Regions from separate parts of the Homo sapiens genome. Here region 2 is linked to region 1. The links come from fine-mapping of genetic effects on plasma protein levels. A gene starts in region 1. The other region holds a variant in brackets. All regions are shown on one strand. Distances are between the middles of the regions.

The links. A credible set is the group of variants that fine-mapping cannot tell apart. PIP is the posterior inclusion probability: the model's chance that the variant is causal. Protein levels are from antibody-based Olink assays in UK Biobank. Linkage for the fine-mapping came from a reference panel and not from the study's own genotypes, which makes the PIPs less certain.
Region 2: its variant is the best candidate, but not a certain one, in a credible set for the plasma level of the SLC4A1 protein (UK Biobank, PIP 0.64).

What each region holds. Positions count from the first base shown.
Region 1 is chr17:44,263,797-44,273,255 of GRCh38, forward strand. It overlaps SLC4A1 (solute carrier family 4 member 1 (Diego blood group)), which reads right to left and starts at 4,339. Exons shown (of 20, transcript NM_000342.4): 1 at 4,258-4,339.
Region 2 is chr17:44,224,194-44,233,652 of GRCh38, forward strand. It overlaps the pseudogene SHC1P2. Among named protein-coding and RNA genes, the nearest start is that of UBTF, 9.2 kb to the left of the region's middle. The variant G/A (reference allele first, on the strand shown) is at 5,825.

The sequences.
Region 1 (9,459 bases):
CTCACTCTGTCACCCAGGCTTAGAGTGCAGTGGCATGATCATAGTTCACTGCAGCCTTGAACTCCTGGGCCCCAGGGATCCTCCTGGCCCAGCCTCCTGAGTAACTGGAATTATAGGCATGCCACAGTGCCCAGGTAATTAAAAAAAAAAAAATCTGTGTGTAGAAACAGGGTCTCACTATCTCAGTGTGGGCTGCTGATTTCTTTCTTCTTTTTTATTTTTTTGAGAGCGGGTCTCCCTCTGTTATCCAGGCTAGAATGCAGTGGCATGATTACAGCTCACATCAGTCTCAAACTCCTAGACTTAAGTGAACCTCCCACCTCAGCCTCCAGAGTAGCTAGCACACACCACCATGCCTGACTAATTTTTAAATGGTTTCTTGGTTGGGCGTGGTGGCTCACACCTGTAATCCTAACATTTTGGGAGGCTGAGGCAGGCAGATTGCTTGAGCTCAGGAGTCCGAGACCAACTGGGCAACATAGTGAAACCACATGTCTACAAAAATACAAAAATTAGCTGGGTGTGGTGACGTATACCTGTAGTCCCAGCTACTTGAGAGGCTGAGGTGGGAGGATTGCCTAAGCCTGGGAGGCAGAGGTTGCAGTGAGCCAAGATGGCACCACTGCACTCCAGCCTGGGTGACAGAGTGAGACTCTTTAGAAGGAAAACAAAACAAAACAAAAAAACCAATACGTGGTTTCTTGATTGATTTGTGTTCATATTATCTGACAATGCTTTTGGAAGGGAAACTACCTGAGTGCGAAGACCCTGTATGTCCCATCCCCACGAAATTCACTACTCCTAGCAGAGTGGCTGTCACGTAGTAGGTGCTCAATAAACATTTACTGAATGATTGTAAGAATGGCTCCCTATTGCGGGGTTGGGGCTCTGAGACTGGGGAGCCAGGATGACTAGGCCCCAGCCAAGAGGCCTCTGAGCTCGGGGTCTCAGTTTTCTCAGTTGTGTCCCTAGCAGAGAGGAAGGTGTGCCTTCCCCAGGAATGTGAGGGCAGGTCCAAGGGGAGGACAGGGGTCACCTAAGGTGGCCCCAGACTGGGTGTGGAGGTGCCTCTTTTCCCTCCTCGCCCACTACAGCACAGGGCATTGAGGTGACAGGCAATTGGGTCGGTTCAACAAAGGTTCCCACTCTGTGCCTGGCATTGTGTTGAGCACTGGAGGCTGTGGGGAGGGGGTGCCGAGCACTGGGGGCTGTGGGGAGGGGGTGCTGAGCACTGGGGGCTGTGGGAGGGGGTGCCGAGCACTGGGGGCTGTGGGGAGGGGCTGCTGATCACTGGGGGCTGGTGGGAGGGGGTGCTGAGCACTGGGGGCTGGTGGGAGGGGGTGCTGAGCTGAACAAGGCCCGTCTCTACTCTGGGGAAGCTCCTAGCCGCGACAGGGAGGCAAACTGGGAACACAGGGCAGCCTCAGTGCTTCCGAGGTGACATGGACCCCAGGGGCCGAAAGTGCTGAGTGCCAAGGATCTGTATGGCAGGAAGAAGAGCAGGACGCGTTTGCAGCACTCGGGGGTGGAGTCACCGGAGGAGGGGTCACTGGCGCTAGCCTAAAAACACAGGTGAGTTTTTCTTGTTTTTGAGACACAGTCTTGCTCTCTCTCCCAGTCTGGAGTGCAGTGGCGCGATCTTGGCTCACTGCAAGCTCCGCCTCCTGGGTTCACGCCATTCTCCTGCCTCAGCCTCCCGAGTAGCTGGGACTACAGGCGCCCGCCACCACGCCCAGCTAATTTTTTGTATTTTTTTAGTAGAGACGGGGTTTCACTGTGTTAGCCAGGATGGTCTCAATCTCCTGACCTCGTGATCCACCCACCTCGGCCTCCCAAAGTGCTGGGATTACAGGTGTGAGCCACCGTGCCCAGCCAAGCACTGGTGAGATGTGAAGGGCTGGGAGTCCAGATGTGAGGCATGCCTGGGTGGAGCTGAACAGGTGGGCTGAGCAAGGTGGGAAAATGCCACGTGAGGGCATGGGGCAGGGAGCCTGGCCAACATGGTGAAACCCCATCTCTACTGAAAATACAAAAATTAGCCAGGCGTGGTGGCGCATGCCTGTAATCCCAGCTACTCAGGAAGCTGAGGCAGGAGAATCCCTTGAACCAGGGGGCAGAGGTTGCAGTGAACCGAGATTGCGCCACTGCACTCCAGCCTGGGCAACAGAGCGAGACTCCGTCTCAAAAAAAAAAAAAAAAGAAAGAAAGGGATGTGCAAACAGCCTTCTTTCTGAGGAATGGGTGACCCTGCAGTCCTGGGGGTAGGGAGGGGATTACTGGATCTCACCAGACTGGAGAATGGGAGAGACCCCTGCCTTGGCAGGTGGGGCAAGTGATGGGGTGCGGGGGAGGGGTCCTGGACCTGAGGACGAGGTAGTCCCTACTGCAGGGCTTGGCTTTGCTCCTGAGGACCCTGATGACCCACCTCTTCTCTCTCTTTTTCCTCCTCCCTCTCTGCTTCTCCCAAAGTTCCTCTTTCTCTTCCATCTTTATTCACTTTCTTCCTTCTCTGGACTTGCCCATGCACTTTCTTAGGCCTCAGATGCTAAGGCCTCCAGGGTGTCTAAGCCTTAGGTACTAAAAGTCCCACCCATGGGGCTGGGACTGTGGCCTTGGTTGCCTATCTGAGGAGTGGAATGGTCAGAGGGGCCCTCAGAGCTGCAGAATCCAGAGGTCCAGGCTGCCTCTCTGCCACTGACTGGCTGAAGGGCCTTGGGCAGCTTCCAGCCTGTAGGCCTCAGTCACCCCATCTGTACAATGGGAGTGCCTTCCTGCCAGGGTTCTGAGACATCAGTGAGAGAGAAGAGGGGAAAACAGAGGTGCCTTGAGCTCAGTTGGAGACTTACAGGGCGCACCCATGACCCAGATTGCCACCCGCCAGCCAGGCCGCCCCCCAGCTGCAGGCCTTGTGCTGCCTAGCACTGATAAGGGCCTGGACCCAGATCGCTGCCCCAAGTTTTGGAAGTGCACCAAACACCTGGCCAGCTAGCCAGCTGGCCAGGGCCAGGCCAGATAAGGGTGAGCGGGACATCTGAGCCTAGAAGGTATAGCACAGCTGGGAAGACACGGCGGGAGAGGGGATTGACCAGATGACAGGGACAACTTCCTAGTGGTATGGCACCACCTTTGTGTAATCAGCCCGAACTGCACAAAGAACTGTACTGCCTTAACTCTTAGAATCCCCAAAGCATTCTGTGAAGTGGTTTGGGGATTCTAAGAGGAAGAAGAGTAATGTCATTAATCCATTCTACAGATGCGAAAGCTGAGGTTCAGAGACATTTACCTGCTTCAGCCACCCAGCAGGTAGGTATCAGAGCCAGGTTACAGCCTGGACTACCTGACTCCAGCCACATCCCTAAGCACTATGCTAAGTTGCCTCCAACAAAACAACTGTTAGCTGGTTTAGAGTTAGTTGTTAAGATCACGGACTCTGCAGTCGGACTGCCTGGATTCAAAGCCCAGCCCTGCCATTTACTAACGGCGTGTGACTTCAACTCTCTGTGCCTCAGTTTTCTCATCTGTAAAATGGGGGTGATGATAATGATGCCCATCTCATAGACCTGTTGTAAGCATTAAGGAAATTTACATTTGTAAGGGGCTTAGAACAGTGCCTAGCATATAAGGAGCGCTATGAAAATGTTTGCTGTCATTATCCCTTGCTGCTGGGGTTACAGTCAGACTTGCCATCTTCATTTCCCCTCTGATTTGCCCTCAGTTCCCATGGAATTAGCCTGAGCTAAGTGTTTTGAGATTCTCATGTGGTAGGAGGCTCTGCAGTTCCCTCCAATACTGACCACGCTGGGCGTGGAGCCAGGTGCCCCAGGTAGACCCCTGGAAGTGTCCCAAAGGGGATACTGTGTCAGCTGACATCCTGCCTCCTAGGTGGGAGAGGGGGTGGTCTGAGGACCCCATTAGGAAGGAAGGAGTCTGGGGTGGACAAGACCTGACCCTGTGGGATCCAACAAGCTGACAAGGGCCCATACCTGGAGGGGATCAGATACCCCCCGCAACACACGCACCGGAGCCACACATACCTCTGCTGCCATTGACCACCTGCCACCCTCCTCTTTTCAGGTGCCAATGGGCCTGTTCCCTTAGGGGCAACATATGCATGGTAACATTCTCACCCCACCCACCTGCACCCCCTTGGAGGTCAGGAGCCTGGCCCACCTGGGCATAGATTCAGGCTGGGCACCTGTAGAAGCCCTCAGGGCAGGCACCGAAGGACCATCCCCAGCCCCTCCCTGCCCTGCCCACCTGCTCACGAGCCTCAGGGTCCCTTGGTGAAGTCCTGCAGCCGCTGGTGCCCTCTGCGACCAGCTACGTTCCCACTCGTTCTGACAGCACCAGCGCCCCAGGGGCAGCTCGCAAACCCCTGACTCATGCCCCCGCCTCCTAATCTGCCCGCCCCACTGGCCCTGGGAGCCCCTTCCCACACCCCCCACCCCGCTCCCACTGGGTGCCCAGTAAACAGAGTTATCTCTTACCCACATCTGGACAGCTGTGAGTCTGGCCCACCCCACCCGCCTGGCCAGCCCCCAAGGCCTCTCGGGGCCCTCCTGGTCCCCATGGTTCTCCTGACTCTTCCTTTGTGGATGAAGGTTTGATCGCTCTGTCCTCAGGGCTCCCAGTGCCCTGGCAGGAAGGCACCAGCCTCCAGAGGTCCCTGTCCTGCCTCTGTCCATCCTCCACTCTGGCCAGGCCCTTCTGCTCTGGCCCCAAGGTGCAAGGGCGCCTGCTCCTCTCGTCTCTCTTGGTATCCACGCTAGGACTCACTCCTCCTCTGCAGTTTTCTCCACAGGGAACTGCTCAGCACTCACGGGGCACGGACAGCCCCCTCCCCTCCTTGATCCAGACTAGGATGCCCCAGCCACATTCTCCCCAAGACCCTGGCTGGTTCTAAAGAGCTGGCTCCTGGACACTAAGACACTGACATTCAGTCAACCTGAAACAATGTCAGCTCAACAAAACAACCATCCCCACACCAAGCTCTTCAACTCACAAAGCTCTAATGTCTGGGCATACTGGCTCCTCTGTAGGCAGCCTGGCTCAGGCCCCCAGGCCAGAACAGCCGCATTCTCAGCCCCTGCCATGCCCCTCCCCTTCAGTTCCCACCCCTACACCCCCAGTTTCTCTGCTCTGGGGGGTGACCAGAGCCTGGTCACCTCTTCGTAGGCTCTGGTTGCTAAAGAGGCAGAGACTGAAAGATGAGTACAGATCAGCAAGAATGAAGAGGGGTTTTCAAGCAGACAGAAAGGGGTGTTGTGGCCATCGCTCTGGGCACAGAGAGGAGGGTGTCCTAGTACAGCTCCGGCATGGACTGGCTGAAGGAACCTGGACAAGTCCCTGGCCCTCTCTGGGCTTCTGTTTTCTCATCCGTAAAGTGAGAGTGTTGGGTTATGTGGCCACCAGCCTGAAGTTCAGACTCAAGCAGAAGAAACTCAAACACAGGGACACACAGGTGGACAAATCCCGCCACTGCAAGACCATTCACTATCTGCACCACAAGCCTGCCAGGGGCTGAGTCCTGTGGAGAGAGAAAAGGGGAGGGACACGGGTCCTGAGGCAGAATCCTGTTTATGGAGGACCTCGGTTCCAGGAATTATGCTGAGGCCTTCATCTTGTGGTCACGCTGGATTCCTACAAACCCCCCACTTCACAGAGGAGGAAACAAAGCCACAGAGAGGCTTTCCCAGGAAAAAGAATGCCCAACGGACCAGCACCTGCCCCGTGCAGTGCACCATGCCTGGACTTCACACGCTCTAGCTTGCCAAGCTCTCTAAGCCCATCTGAGGACAACACTGTTTACGATGTTTATTCACCTCTCACAGAGAAAGGGCAGCAAAAGGAGAGCAGTGACTTGCCCAAGTCCTCTGGGCTGGTGAAGCCAGCGTGGGCACTCCGACCTGCTAATCTGCCTGGACAGCTGGTGTTCTGCCAGATCTGAGCCCCTCCCACCACCCAGGCCTTGGTGCCGGTCAGGAACAGAGAGAGGCCCTGGCTAAAGGGGGCTGGAGGTGCCTTCTCCTGCTCCAGCTGGTGGGATCTGTCCCAAACCCTGGGCCCACACTGGGTTGGCTTCCTATGGCCTGTGGCAGTGAGTGCCAAGTGAAGACCTTTGACTCCTTGACCCAGCCAGTGTGCCCAGTCCCCTTGCCCCTCTGCCTGCCCTAGGAGTCAGAGACAGCTGAGTGCAGGGGGCAGCAATGGGGCACCTCTCCTGGGGCCCGGGAAGGACTGACAGCTGGCTGGGGGTGGAACAACAAATGGCATCATCTGGCTTAGGGGGAAAATCTGGCCAGCTGTTTGGCTGTTCTGCAGGCACCACCCCCTGGCAGCCCCACCAGACAGCCAGGCAGAGGCACAGCAGCTTGGACGCTGGTTCTTTCCACTCACACCACATGTTCTAGATCATTCTTGTTGCCCTGGCTGAATGTAGATGTTTCTTTTCTAACTCTGCCCAATGTCACATTTAATCTTTTTTTTTTTTTTTTTTTTTTTTTTTTTGAGGCGGTGTTTCGCTCTTGTTGACCAGGCTAGAGTGCAATGGCGCAATCTCGGCTCACTGCAACCTCCGCCTCCTGGGTTTAAGCGATTCTCCTGCCTCAGCCTCCCAAGTAGCTGGGATTATAGGCGCCCACCACCATGCCGGGCTACTTTTTGTATTTTTAGTAGAGATGGGATTTCACCATGTTGGCCAGGCTGGTCTTGAACTCCTGACCTCAGATGATTCGTCTGCCTCCCAGAATGCTGGGATTACAGGTATAAGCCACTGTGTCAGGCCTCTTTTGTTTTTTGTTTTTTTTTGAAATGGAGTCTCACTCTGTCGCCCAGGCTGGAATGCAGTGGCTCAATTTCAGCTCACTGCAACCTCCACCGCCCGGGTTCAAGTGATTCTCCTGCCTTAGCCTCTTGAGTAGCTGGGATTACAGACGCCCAACACCACACCCAGCTAATTTTTGTATTTTTAGTAGAGTTTCACCATGTTGGCCAGGCTGGTCTCAAACTCCCGACTTCAAGTAATCTGCCCACTTCGGCCTCCCAAAGTGCTGGGATTACAGGTGTGAGCCACCTTGCCTGGCCCACATTTACTCTTGTTTATGCTTTTCCAGGAAGAGGTGAGGGCAACCCTCACTCATTTTATTCCAATTTGGACTTGGGTCAGTTTGATTCATCTGAAGGCCTCCATGCGCCTGGCACTAGGCTGCCCTCTGGGGAAGCAAGGCACGAGGGAGTCTTACCTCCCTTTGACTATGCCCCGGGCTGGACAGAGATGGTCGTGGTCAGAAAGATTGGCACCTGGAGGGCTTGAGCAGAGCCCCAAGATGCCTTGAGCTGTGCCCTGAGTGGCCCTTCACACACTCACAGCCCATCCTGCTCTTTCCTTGGAGTCCCTCTTGTCACTACTGCTCTACCACTTCCTAGAGCACTAAGGGAGGAGCCCTCAGATTCCCCTCCCCAAGGTCCATATGTGTCCTCGTTCAAATTTATACTCCTTTGGGAGAAAGCCGGGAGCCCAGGCAGATGTCAGCAGGAATGAAGTGAGCTGAGGGCGAACCCCGTATGATGTTATTTCAGAGCATACAGCTCAGATCACGGGTTGGGATGGGTTGTCCCAGAGGGAGACTCTGTGGGCAGAGGGTGGAGTTCTTCTGAAAGGACAAGACTTTCTCATTTTCTTTTTCCTTTTTCTTTCTTTCTTTCTTTCTTTCTTTCTTTCTTTCTTTTTTTTTTTTTTTTGATACAGAATCGCACTCTGTCACCCAGGCTGAAGTGCAGTGGCGTGATCTCGGCTCACTGCAACCTCCACCTCCCCGGCTCAAGTAATCCTCCTACCTCAGCCTCCTGAGTAGCGGGGACTACAGGCGCACACCACTACACCCAGCGAGTTTCGTATTTTTTGTAGACAGGGTCTTGTTATGTTGCCCAGGCTGGTCTCAAACTCCTGGCCTCAAGTGATCTTCCCACCTCGGCCTCCCAAAGTGCTGGGATATCAGGTGTGAGCCACTGCACCTGGCCTTACTTTCTCATTTTCAATCATCCTGGATGCAGTCAGCCCTCAAGTGAGAAGTGAGGACTGGGTAGTGGCCTTAGAAGGGCCAGCTGCTTTCTCTATCTTACTCTAAGGAGTAGAAGCTGAGACTAGGTAGGACGGGGGTTCGATGATGGTTAAGGGAACTGTCTCTTGCAATGGGATTGGCAATGAGGTGTCAGCTTGGCCTGTGACTGCTGAGGGCAGACCCATTCCATGTGAGCAGACCCTTACATCTTTTCTTCCATGCTCAGCCGGTAATTCTCAGCTGCTATCCTGAAGTCCTCAGCAAAGCTTGCTGGACTGGATCACCTGCCTCTGTTACCCCATGCGGATGGAGGGGAGGGTCTGAGACCATGTTTGGGGCAGAGCAGGCCATGGTTTGCGGTGGCAGCTAAGGTGAGTGGACATCCAGATGGCACGGGGGAGCACCTGAAGGGAGGTGTGGTGGCTGGAGCCAGGAGGCTGGAGGAGGGGACGTGGTCTGGCCAAGGTGGCCTGGAGGGACCTATGTACATTGCTCGGTGAAGATACGGCTTTCTGTGCCCTCATAGACTAGGGACTCAGACCCCTGGGATTTTGCATTAAAGGGAAGTGTCCCACGGCTGGGACATGTGGGCTGTAGAGGACCTCCTCGGGTTGGAAGCCCTGTGTGATCTTGAGCTGACCACACCCTCTCTCTGGACTTCCTTTTCCTCTCTGGACTGTTGTGACCACATGGGATGACAGGTGGGAAAGAGCTTGAAAATAGTCTTCTCTAGATGCAGGCAAGGGGCTGAGTAGTGAACGGGAGAAGGAGCCACGGGGCTCGTGTATCAGGCAGCCTGAGCCAAGGCAGCAGGGCAGGGACCACGCAGCGATAGGAGTTCATGTCCAGCAGGGAGTGTATACAAACCTCAGAGGGAGGATAAGGGATGTAAACAAGGGATGGGCCCGGAGGGACAAGTAATGCGGGAAGTGTGAGGTCCCCAGGGAGACCATGCTGGTGGAGGGCCCAGAGTTGTGAGGTGCAGCCCTGAGCAGTCTGGGGGTGGATGGAAGTGGGGCAGGGTGCACACACGTTAGGAATGGACCAGTCATCATTATCACCTGGTGAGGGAGTGGGGAGGTGCGGGGAATCAGGCGGGAGAGCTGGGGGATGGGGCTGGAACTGGAAAGGCTCTCAGAGCTGAGCCAGTCCAGTCCCCCTACCCTCAGAACCCTGTGCCCCGTGACCCTCATCACCAGCACCCTCGGCTGGGCCCTGGGGAGTCCTGGGAGGAAGGCGGTTTCTACTGTCTAGGGGCAGCCAGGCCAGATCTGTGCAAAAATAACTCACCCTGAGCATCCTTCCAGAGATACACGCTGGGAGTTCTGCAGGGTCCCCTGAGAGCTGAGGAGGAGGAAGAGGGGAAGTGGGAGTTCCAGCAGGACTTTGAAGGATGGGG
Region 2 (9,459 bases), 40 kb before region 1:
TAAATTTTTATTTAAGATGGTATAAAGACACACGTTTTTGGGCCAAGAATGTTATTGTCCCTTGTTACTTTTTTTTTTTTTTTCCTTGGGACGGAGTTTCACTCTTATTGACCAGGCTGGAGTGCAATGGCGCGATCTTGGCTCACCGCAACCTCCACCTCCTGGGTTCAAGCGATTCTCCTGCCTCAGCCTCCCAAGTAGCTGGGATTACAGGCATGCACCACCACGCCCAGCTAATTTTGTAATTTTAGTAGAGATGGGGTTTCTCCACGTTGGTCAGGCTGGTCTCGAACTCCCAACCTCAGGTGATCCGCCCACCTTGGCCTCCCAAAGTGCTGAGATTACAGGCGTGAGCCACTGCGCCCGGCCTGTCCCTTGTTATTTTTTTATTGCTGTGTAAGTCAGAGATAGTAAAGTACACATACTTTAAGTATACAACTTTTTTTTTTGAGACGGAGCTTTGCTCTTGTCACCCAGACTGGAGTGCAATGGCACGATCTTGGCTCACTGCAACCTCCACCTCCCTGGTTCAAGCAATTCTGCCTCAGCCTCCCGAGTAGCTGGGATTACAGGCATGCGCCACCACGACCAGCTAATTTTTTTGTATTTTTATTTATTTATTTTTTGAGATTGAGTCTAGCTCTGTTGCCCAGGCTGGAGTGCAGTGGCACGATTTCAGCTCACTGCAACCTCCGCCTCCAGGTTTCAGGCGATTCTCCTGCCTCAGCCTCCTGAGTAGCTGGGATTACAAGCGCCCACGACAATGCCCAGCTAATTTTTGTATTTTCAATAAAGACGGGGTTTCGCCATGTTGGCCAGGCTGGTCGCGAACTCCTCACCTCAGGTGATCTGCCTGCGTCAGCCTCCTAAAGTGCTGATTACAGGCAGGAGCCACCCAACCCAGCATAAGTATACAGCTTGATGAACTTTTAGGTATGTATATTTAGTATCATATTACATATGTGTATACCATGTAACCAGCACCCAGATCAAAATATCAAATATTTCTAGCATTTAGCAAGTTTTTTTTTTTTTTTTTTTTTTTTGAGGTGGAGTCTCACTCTGTCACCTAGGCTGGAGTGCAGTGACACGGTCTTGGCTCACTGCCAGCTCTGCCTCCCGGGTTCGTGTCATTCTCCTGCCTCAGCCTCCTGAGTAGCTGGGACTACAGGTGCCCGCCACCATGCCCGGCTAATTTTTTTTTTAATTTTAATTTTTAGTAGAGACGGGGTTTCACCGTGTTAGCCAGGATGGTCTCGATCTCCTGACCTCGTGATCCACCTGCCTCAGTCTCCCAAAGTGCTGGGATTACAGGCGTGAACCACCGCACCTGGCGCATTTAGCAGGTTTACTCAGTATTCCCCTCCAAGTATCATCAATGTTCTGAGGTTCTGAGCTCTATCACCATAGACAAGTTTTACCTGTTCTTGTAGTATTTCCATTGTATAAATATACCACAATTTATCCATTCTACATTTATTTATTTATTTTAAGGTGAAGTCTTGCTATGTTGCCCTAGCTGGTCTTGAACTCTTGAACTCCTGTTTTTTTTTTTGTTTTTTGTTTTGTTTTTTTGAGACGGAGTTTCACTCTTGTTGCCCAGGCTGGAGTGTAATGGCACGATCTCGGCTCACTGCAACCTCTGCCTCCCGGGTTCAAGTGATTTCCGCCTCAGCCTCCCGAGTAGCTGGGATTACAGGCATGAGCCACCACACTTGGCTAATTTTGTATTTTTAGTAGAGACGGGGTTTCTCCATGTTGGTCAGGCTGGTCTCGAACTCCCGACCTCAGGTGATCCGCCCACCTCAGCCTCTCAAAGTGCTGGGATTACAGGCTTGAGCCACTGTGCCCAGTCTTGTTTTTTTCTTGAGACAGAGTCTTGCTCTGTCACCCAAGCTGGAGTACAGTGGTGTGAACTCGGCTCACTGCAACCTCTGCCTCCCAGGCTCAAGCGCTTCTCGTGCCTCAGCCTCCCAAGTAGCTGGGACTACAGGCCTGCACCACTACTCCTGGCCACCTTTTTGTATTTTTAGTAGAGACTGGGTTTCACCATGTTGCCCAGGCTGGTCTTGAACTCCTGACCTCAAATGATCTACCTACCTTGGCCTCCCAAAATGCTGCCTCCATCTCCCAAACTGCTAGGATTACAGGTGTGAGCCACCGCACCTGGCCATAAGTTCAAATTAATTAAAATTAAATAAAATGGAAAATTCAGTTCCTCAGTCACATTTACCATATATCCATGGCCCTATGTGTCTAGTGGCTACATTATTGGATACTAGAGATATAGAACATTTCCTAGGCTGGCGCGGTGGTTCACGCCTGTAATCCCAGCACTTTGGGAGGCCGAGGTGGGTGGATCACCTGAGATCAGGAGTTCGAGATCAGCCTGGCCAACATGGTGAAACCCTATCTGTACTAAAAATACAAAAATTAGCCTGGCGTGGTGGCAAGCACCTGTAATCTCAGTTACTCGGCAGGCTGAGGCAAGAGAATCACTTGAACCTGGGAGGCGGAGCTTGCAGTGAGCGGAGATCCCACCACTGTACTCTAGCCTGGGTGACAGAGCAAGACTCTTCTCAAAAAAAAAAAAAAAAAAGAAAACAATAGAGTGTGGTGATTTGGGGTACATGGTGTGAGGGGATGGCAGGATATGAAGGAAAGGGCAATTGAGTAGAGCTCTTAGAGGTAAAACTCACAAAAATATAGGGCCCCATCTGACCTAGTCCACCTGCAATTTTTATTTTTTATTTATTTATTTTTTATGTTTAGAAGAAATACGGACTTTAATGAAGAGTTTTCCTTTTGCTACAAGTGAGACCCGGGGAAACATCCCAACAACGACAAAAGGAGGCCAGGATGGAAACAGCCCACTCTCTCTTATCCACAAGGCCTAAAGAGAAAGCCCGGCTTGCTGTCGTGTGTCCACTCCGGGCCTAGGCAGGGCTGCGCCTGTAAAAGGTACTCAGGAACTGCAGGTTTTGCATTTCCCCTTTGTGAAACTAACATGCATTTGGGCAAACTTCTGCCTCCCAGTCTCGTGGTAAGAGGCCCAAGTTTTTCTAGTCCTAGGTGGAAATCAGTTTCATCTGCCTCAGGTCTCTGGTATAAATAATAATGCTGCTGATCCCAGTTACCTCACAGGCCTGGGCAACGAAAATGCCAAGAGCTGCAAAAGGTCTTGGAAAATTCAAAAAGGTGATGTATAAATTTAATAATTGATTATCATTTTGTGCTCAAGAATAAGCCATGGAAAACAAAATTAGGAAAGTAAGTCTATATCCCTAAAATATATGCATATAAAATTTTAAAAGAATGCAGTTCCAACTCTGCAGATAGTATTCAGGGATGGTCTACTGCTTTAGAGTCTCAATGCCCCTTTTCCCACCTCCACAAAATCCACCTGGGAGAGTTTACTGTACACGAAGCCCAAATTCAGTCACCCCCCACCCCTCCTCTCCCAGAAAGGGAGGCAGGGCAGAGGCTCCAGGAGGAAGGGCTACATTTTGGCTATAGAGTACAATAGGCATGCATCATGGGAGGGCAGGGTTTATGAAATGGATTGAGGGGCTCTGGCCAGGAGGCACTGAGCAAGGGACAGGTCCATCTTCCCCCTGGCTGGGAGGGGGGCTCTGGGACAATCTCTAAGGGTTGCATATCCCCAGGGAGAGGGGATATATGCCATTCTTGTCTCTATTCTCCCAACCCAAACCAGAGAGGGTGCTGAGCAAGGAGAAAACAGGGTCTCAGAAGCCAAGAAGGTGTCGGCATCACTGTCATTGAATTCAGGGACCCATGAACTCTTTTTTTTTTTTTTTTTGAGATGGAATCTCACTCTGTCGTCCAGGCGGGAGTGTAGTGGTACAATCTTGGCTCACTGCAACCTCCACCTCCCGGGTTCAAGCGATTCTCCTGCCTCAGCCTCCTTAGTAACTAGGATTATAGGTGCATGCCACTACACCCAGCTAATTTTGTACTTTTAGTAGAGACGGGTTTTCGCCATGTTGGCCAGACTGGTCTTGAACTCCTGACCTCAAGTGATCCATCCGCCTCGGCCTCCCAAAGTGCTGGGATTACAGGTGTGAGCCACCACATCTGGCACGAACTCTTTGCATAAAATATCTTCAGACCTAGGAGGTGGTCAAAGGCACAAAGTTTAAACATGGGGTGGGGGTTGTGGAGAGGTGTCTGGGGTACCCTGAAGCTCAGAGGTGTGATTTGTTCCCCCTTGCCCAGAAGGGTGACTGCTCCACTGGGCCTATCACCACAGGACATTTTCCATGACAAGCACTCACCTTCTTGGGGAAGGGACATCGGGTTGGCACAGGAAAGGCGTAGGTAAGGGGCCACTCTGTCCATTAATACTTCGGGTGATTAATGTTTGGGGAGAAGCAAGATTCTCCCCCAGGCTTCTGACTCAAACTCTCTCACTTAGCTGGATACTAAACCCAGTGTCCACACTACCCTCAGCTCTGACACAAGGCCAAACCCACAGAACACTCCCAAATGAGGTCCCGAGAGTTAGGGAATAGGGTGGAATCTTCTGGAAGAGGGCGCTGGGGCAGATCACAGTTTCCACTTCACAGGTTGCTGTAGATACAGTTCACTGCCCACAGAGATGATAGGCCAGTGATTGTCCATGTGGTAGCTGATGAGGTGACTGACACTCTCTTTTTTTTTTTGAGACGGAGTCTCGCTCTGTTGCCCAGGCTGGAGTACAGTGGCGTGATCTCGGCTCACTGCAAGCTCCGCCTCCTGGGTTCACACTATTCTCCTGCCTCAGCCTCCTGAGTAGGGACTACGGGCGCCTGCCACCACGCCCAGCTAATTTTTTGTATTTTTAGTAGAGACCGGGTTTCACCGTATTAGCCAGGATGGTCTCGATCTCCTGACCTTGTGATCTGCCTGGCTTGGTCTCCCAAAGTGCTGGGATTGACACTCTCAAAGCAGTGATCCTTTGTCCAAACCAGTCCTTCAGGGTCCACCAATAGCAGGTGCTTAGGCAGCCCACTCTGCAAGCCAGTAAGCACATACTGGCCTTGGTCATGCTCTCCCGCACCAGGAAGTCGCCATGGAGCTGCAGCAATGCCTCAGCCTCTCGCTGGCTCAGCTTCCCGTGGAACCAGGGCTCCCCTTGGAGCTGCTCAGCCATGGAAACCACTGGGGAGGGGGAGGCACCCAAAGAGCATCTTTAAAGGGCTTCATGTCAAAGAGGTCCCAGGGTGCACTGCGATTGATGGCAGGATGGGGGGGCCTAGCACCACCTTCTGCTTGCCGGGCCTTGTCTAGGTTCTGGACGTTGATATAGGGATCATTGAAGAGCTCTCTGCCTGCTGGACAGGGTGGTGGAGGTGGCATCTGTTTGCGGACTTCTGGATCTCCCCCAGCAGGCTATCCCACAGGCAGTGTAGCTCCCAAGTGGCTGGGGGTCCAGACACTGGGTGGAGTGGGTCAAGCAGCCTCTGAAGTGGCTCCTTCCCGAAGCCTCATGTCTACCAACTCCCCAAGAGAAGGTTCCTTCCCAGGGACGTCATTATAGTACTAATGGTCAGGTGGCTCTTCCTCCTCCTCATCCCAAGCTGATCCATCAAAGCCAGCCATCCTGTCTTGGGGGTGAGCAGTTGGGGTGGGTTCGTGAGGTATTGTTTGAAGCACAACTCGAAGGCCTGGCCAATGGTGCTAATGACATCCTGGGAGGGCCTTTGGGACACTCCAGAATGTGGCAGGCTCTCTGATTCACAGGGTCTTTGGCAACGTAGGCAACATCCTCAGCTGTGTCCTGTTTGCAGTCTGCGGCCATGAGGTTGAGGCTGCTGGTGGAGAC[G/A]GTGAGAGTGATTGGCATTCCAGCAAATTTCAGGTTACTCCTTCCCAGGATAGAGCTGAGCAGGCAGCTACAGGGCTTTCTCTTCCTTGTCACCCCCTTCACACCCAGCACAGCATCACACACCAGACTGATGGCCTGCCTCCCTGCGTGACCTGAGTTGGGTGTTGAAGTCGAGGGCACGCATTGATTGCAGGACCTCCATATAGCCCATGGAAGTGAGCCTGGGCCATTAGCATCCTCTGCTACAACAGCTGTGGATTGGAGCTAGCAAAGTGAGGACAGGAAGGAAGTGGTCCCAGCGGACATAGAGCAGGGCCAAGAGGAAGAGCAAAGCAGGGCCTCATGGAGTCTCCGCACCGCACCACAGGCCGATTTGATTCCAGATCACACCACTGCCTGCTTAGGTCACCACTCCAACTTTCTCCCCTGGCTCTGCCTCCCTAGAGAAACTTTATTACGCTCACTTCCCGCCTCACTAACCCCTGACCCTCTCCCCCTGCAGTTTTTAACTTTCTGAGTTGCTCACATTGAGCCTACAGCAATTTGTCAATTACACTTCAGGTTTTTCTACCCTGGCACTGGTTCCTGTGGAGGTTACTGCTTGTGAGTTTCTGCTCCCATCAACTGTGATTCTCAGGCTGGGCGTGGTGGCTTATGCCTGTAATCCCAGCACTTTGGGAGGCTGAGGCAGGAGTATTGCTTGAGCCCAGTAGTTCAAGACCAGCCTGGACAACATAGGGAGACCCCATCTCTACCAAAAATTGAAAAATTAGCTGGGTGTGGTGGCTCGTGCTTGTAGTCCCAACTATTAGAGAGGCTGAGATGGAAGAATCGCTTGAGCCCAGGTATTTGAGGCTGCAGTGAGCTATCATTTTGCCACTGTACGCCAGACAGAGCAAGAGCCTGTCGAAGAAAAAAAGAAATTGTGATTTTATCTGACTGTCTCACCAATTTAGGGCATAGCAATTTGCTGTGTGACCCCACTTCTCTGATGGATCTAAGAAGGGTTGATTTTTCAGTTTGTTCAGCTTTTTACTTGTTTGAATGTAGAGGTGATTTCCAAGCTCTTTACATGTTAGACTGGAAACTCTTCTTCCTGTTTTTTTTTTTTTTTTTTTTAAGAGATGAAGTCTTGCTATGTTGCCCAGGCTGATCTTGAACCCCTGGGCTTATAATCCCAACTCCAAAGTGTTGGGATTATAGGCGTGAGCCACCTTGCCCAGTTGAAATCCTCTATTTCGTTTTGAGTGAATTTGGCTGTTTGTGTCTTTCACTCTGTTTAAAAAACTATATATGGGTTGGGTGTGGTAGCGCATGCCTATAATCCCAGCACTTTGGAAGGCCAAAGCAACGGGATTGCTTGAGCCCAGGAGTTTGAGACCAGTCTGGGCAACATAGCAAGACCCTCTCTCTACAAAAAAATACAAAAATTAGCCGGGTATAGTGCCCTCATGCCTGTGATCCCAGCTACTCAGGAGGCTGAGGCAGGAGGATCACTGGAACCCAGGAGGTTGAGGCTGCAGTGAGCCATGATTGCTCCACTGCACTCCAGCGTGGATGACAGAGTGAGACCCTGTCTCAAAAGAAAAGAAAAAAGAAAAAAAATTCCCACACAGCACAGATGATAGGATTTTTTTTATCCTGACGTATAGGAACTTTATTTTACTTTTAAATTTATTTAATTAATTATTATTATTATTTTTTGAGGTGGAGTTTTGCTCTTGTTGCCCAGGCTGGAGTGTAGTAGCGCGATCTCAGCTCATTGCAACCTCTGCCTCCCAGGCTCAAGCAATTCTCCTGCCTCAGCCTCCCAAGTAGCTGGGCGCACCACCACGGCCAGCTAATTTTTGTAGTTTTAGTAGAAACAGGGTCTCACCATGTTGGCCAGGCTGGTCTCAAACTCCTGGCCTCAAGCGATCCGCCTGCCTCAGCCTCCCAAAGTGCTGGGATTACAGGAGTGAGCCACCGCGCCCTGCCAATAGGAATTTTACCATTTCGTTTAAGTTGTCAAATGTATGGGTATTTATGTTTGTAGTATTCCTTTGTTATTCTTTTAATGTTTTTAGGGTCTGTAGTGATGTCTTCCATTTCTGTTATTTATAATTTGTGTCTCTTCTCTGTTTTTCTTGGTCAGTCTGACCAAAGGTTTATAAATTTTACTCATTTTTTTTCAGAGAACTAGCTTTTCGTTTCATTGATTTCCTCTACTGTTTGTTCTTAATTTCATTGATTTTTTTTTTTTTTTTTGAGTGACTCACTCAGTTACCCAGGCTGGAGTGCAGTGGTGCTATCTCGGCTCACTGCAAACTCTGTCTCTCAGGTTCAAGCGGCTGTGCCATCTCAGCCTCCCGAGTAGCCAGGACGATAGGTGTGCACCACCATGCCCGGCTAATTTTTGTATTTTTATTAGAGATGGGGTTTCACCATGTTGGCCGGGCTGGTCTCGAACTCCTGACCTCAAGTGACCCACCTGTCTTGGCCTCCCAAAGTGCTGGGATTACAGACCTGAGCCACCAAGCCTGGCCAATTTCATTGATTTCTATTCTATCTTTATTATTTCCTTCCTTTTGTCTGCTTTGGGTTTAATTTGCTCATTTTTTCTAGTTTCTTATAGCAGGAGTTTAGGTTATTGATTTGAGATATTTCTTATTTTCTTTTTCTTTCTTTCTTTCTTTCTTTCTTTTTTTTTTTTTTTTTTTGAGATGGAGTCTCACTCTGTTGACCTCAAATGATCCGCCTGCCTTAGCCTCCCAAAGTGCTGAGATTACAGGCGTGAGCCTGCTCGCCTGGCCTCTTATTTTTTAATCTAGGTATTTAATGCTCTGTTTCCCCCTAAGCACTACTTCATTGCATCTCACAAATTTTGATATGTTTTCATCCTCCTTTAGTTCAAAATATTTCTCAATTTCACTTATGACTTTAGCTTTGGTCTATGGGTTATTTAGAAGTGCATTGTTTTACTTTCCAAATACTTAGGGATTTGTGGCCTGGCGCTGTGGCTCATGCCTGTAATCCCAACACTTTGGGAGGCCAAGGCGAGCAGATCATTTGAGGTCAGGAGTTTGAGAGCAGCCTGGCCAACATGGTAAAACCCCGTTGTCTCTATTAAAAATACAAAAATTAGCTGGTCATAGTGGCACACACCTGTAATCCCAGCTACTTGGGAGGCTGAGGCAGGAGAATTGCTTGAACCCGGGAGGCGGAGGTTGCAGTGAGCCGAGATCGCGCCACTGTACTCCAGCCTGGGCGACAGAGAGAGACTCTATCTCAAAACAAACAGAAACAAATATTTAGGGATTTGCTAGATGTCTTTCTGTTATTGATTTATAATTTAATAATGTTATGAACATAGGCTATGTTTTCTGTGATTTCCATTCCTTTAAATTTGTTAAGGTTTGTGTTTGTGGCCCAGAATGTTGTCTATTTTAAGGTGAATGATCCATGGGCATTTGAAAAGAATATGTATTCTGCTGTAGTTGGGTGGAGTGTACCCTAAAGATAAATTAGGTCAAGTTGGTTGCTGGTGCTATTTAGGTGTTCTATATCCTTCATGATTTTCTGTCCACTAGTTCTATCAATTATTGAGAGAGTAGTGGTAGTTCCTGCCATAATGGTAGATTTATCTGTTTCTCCTT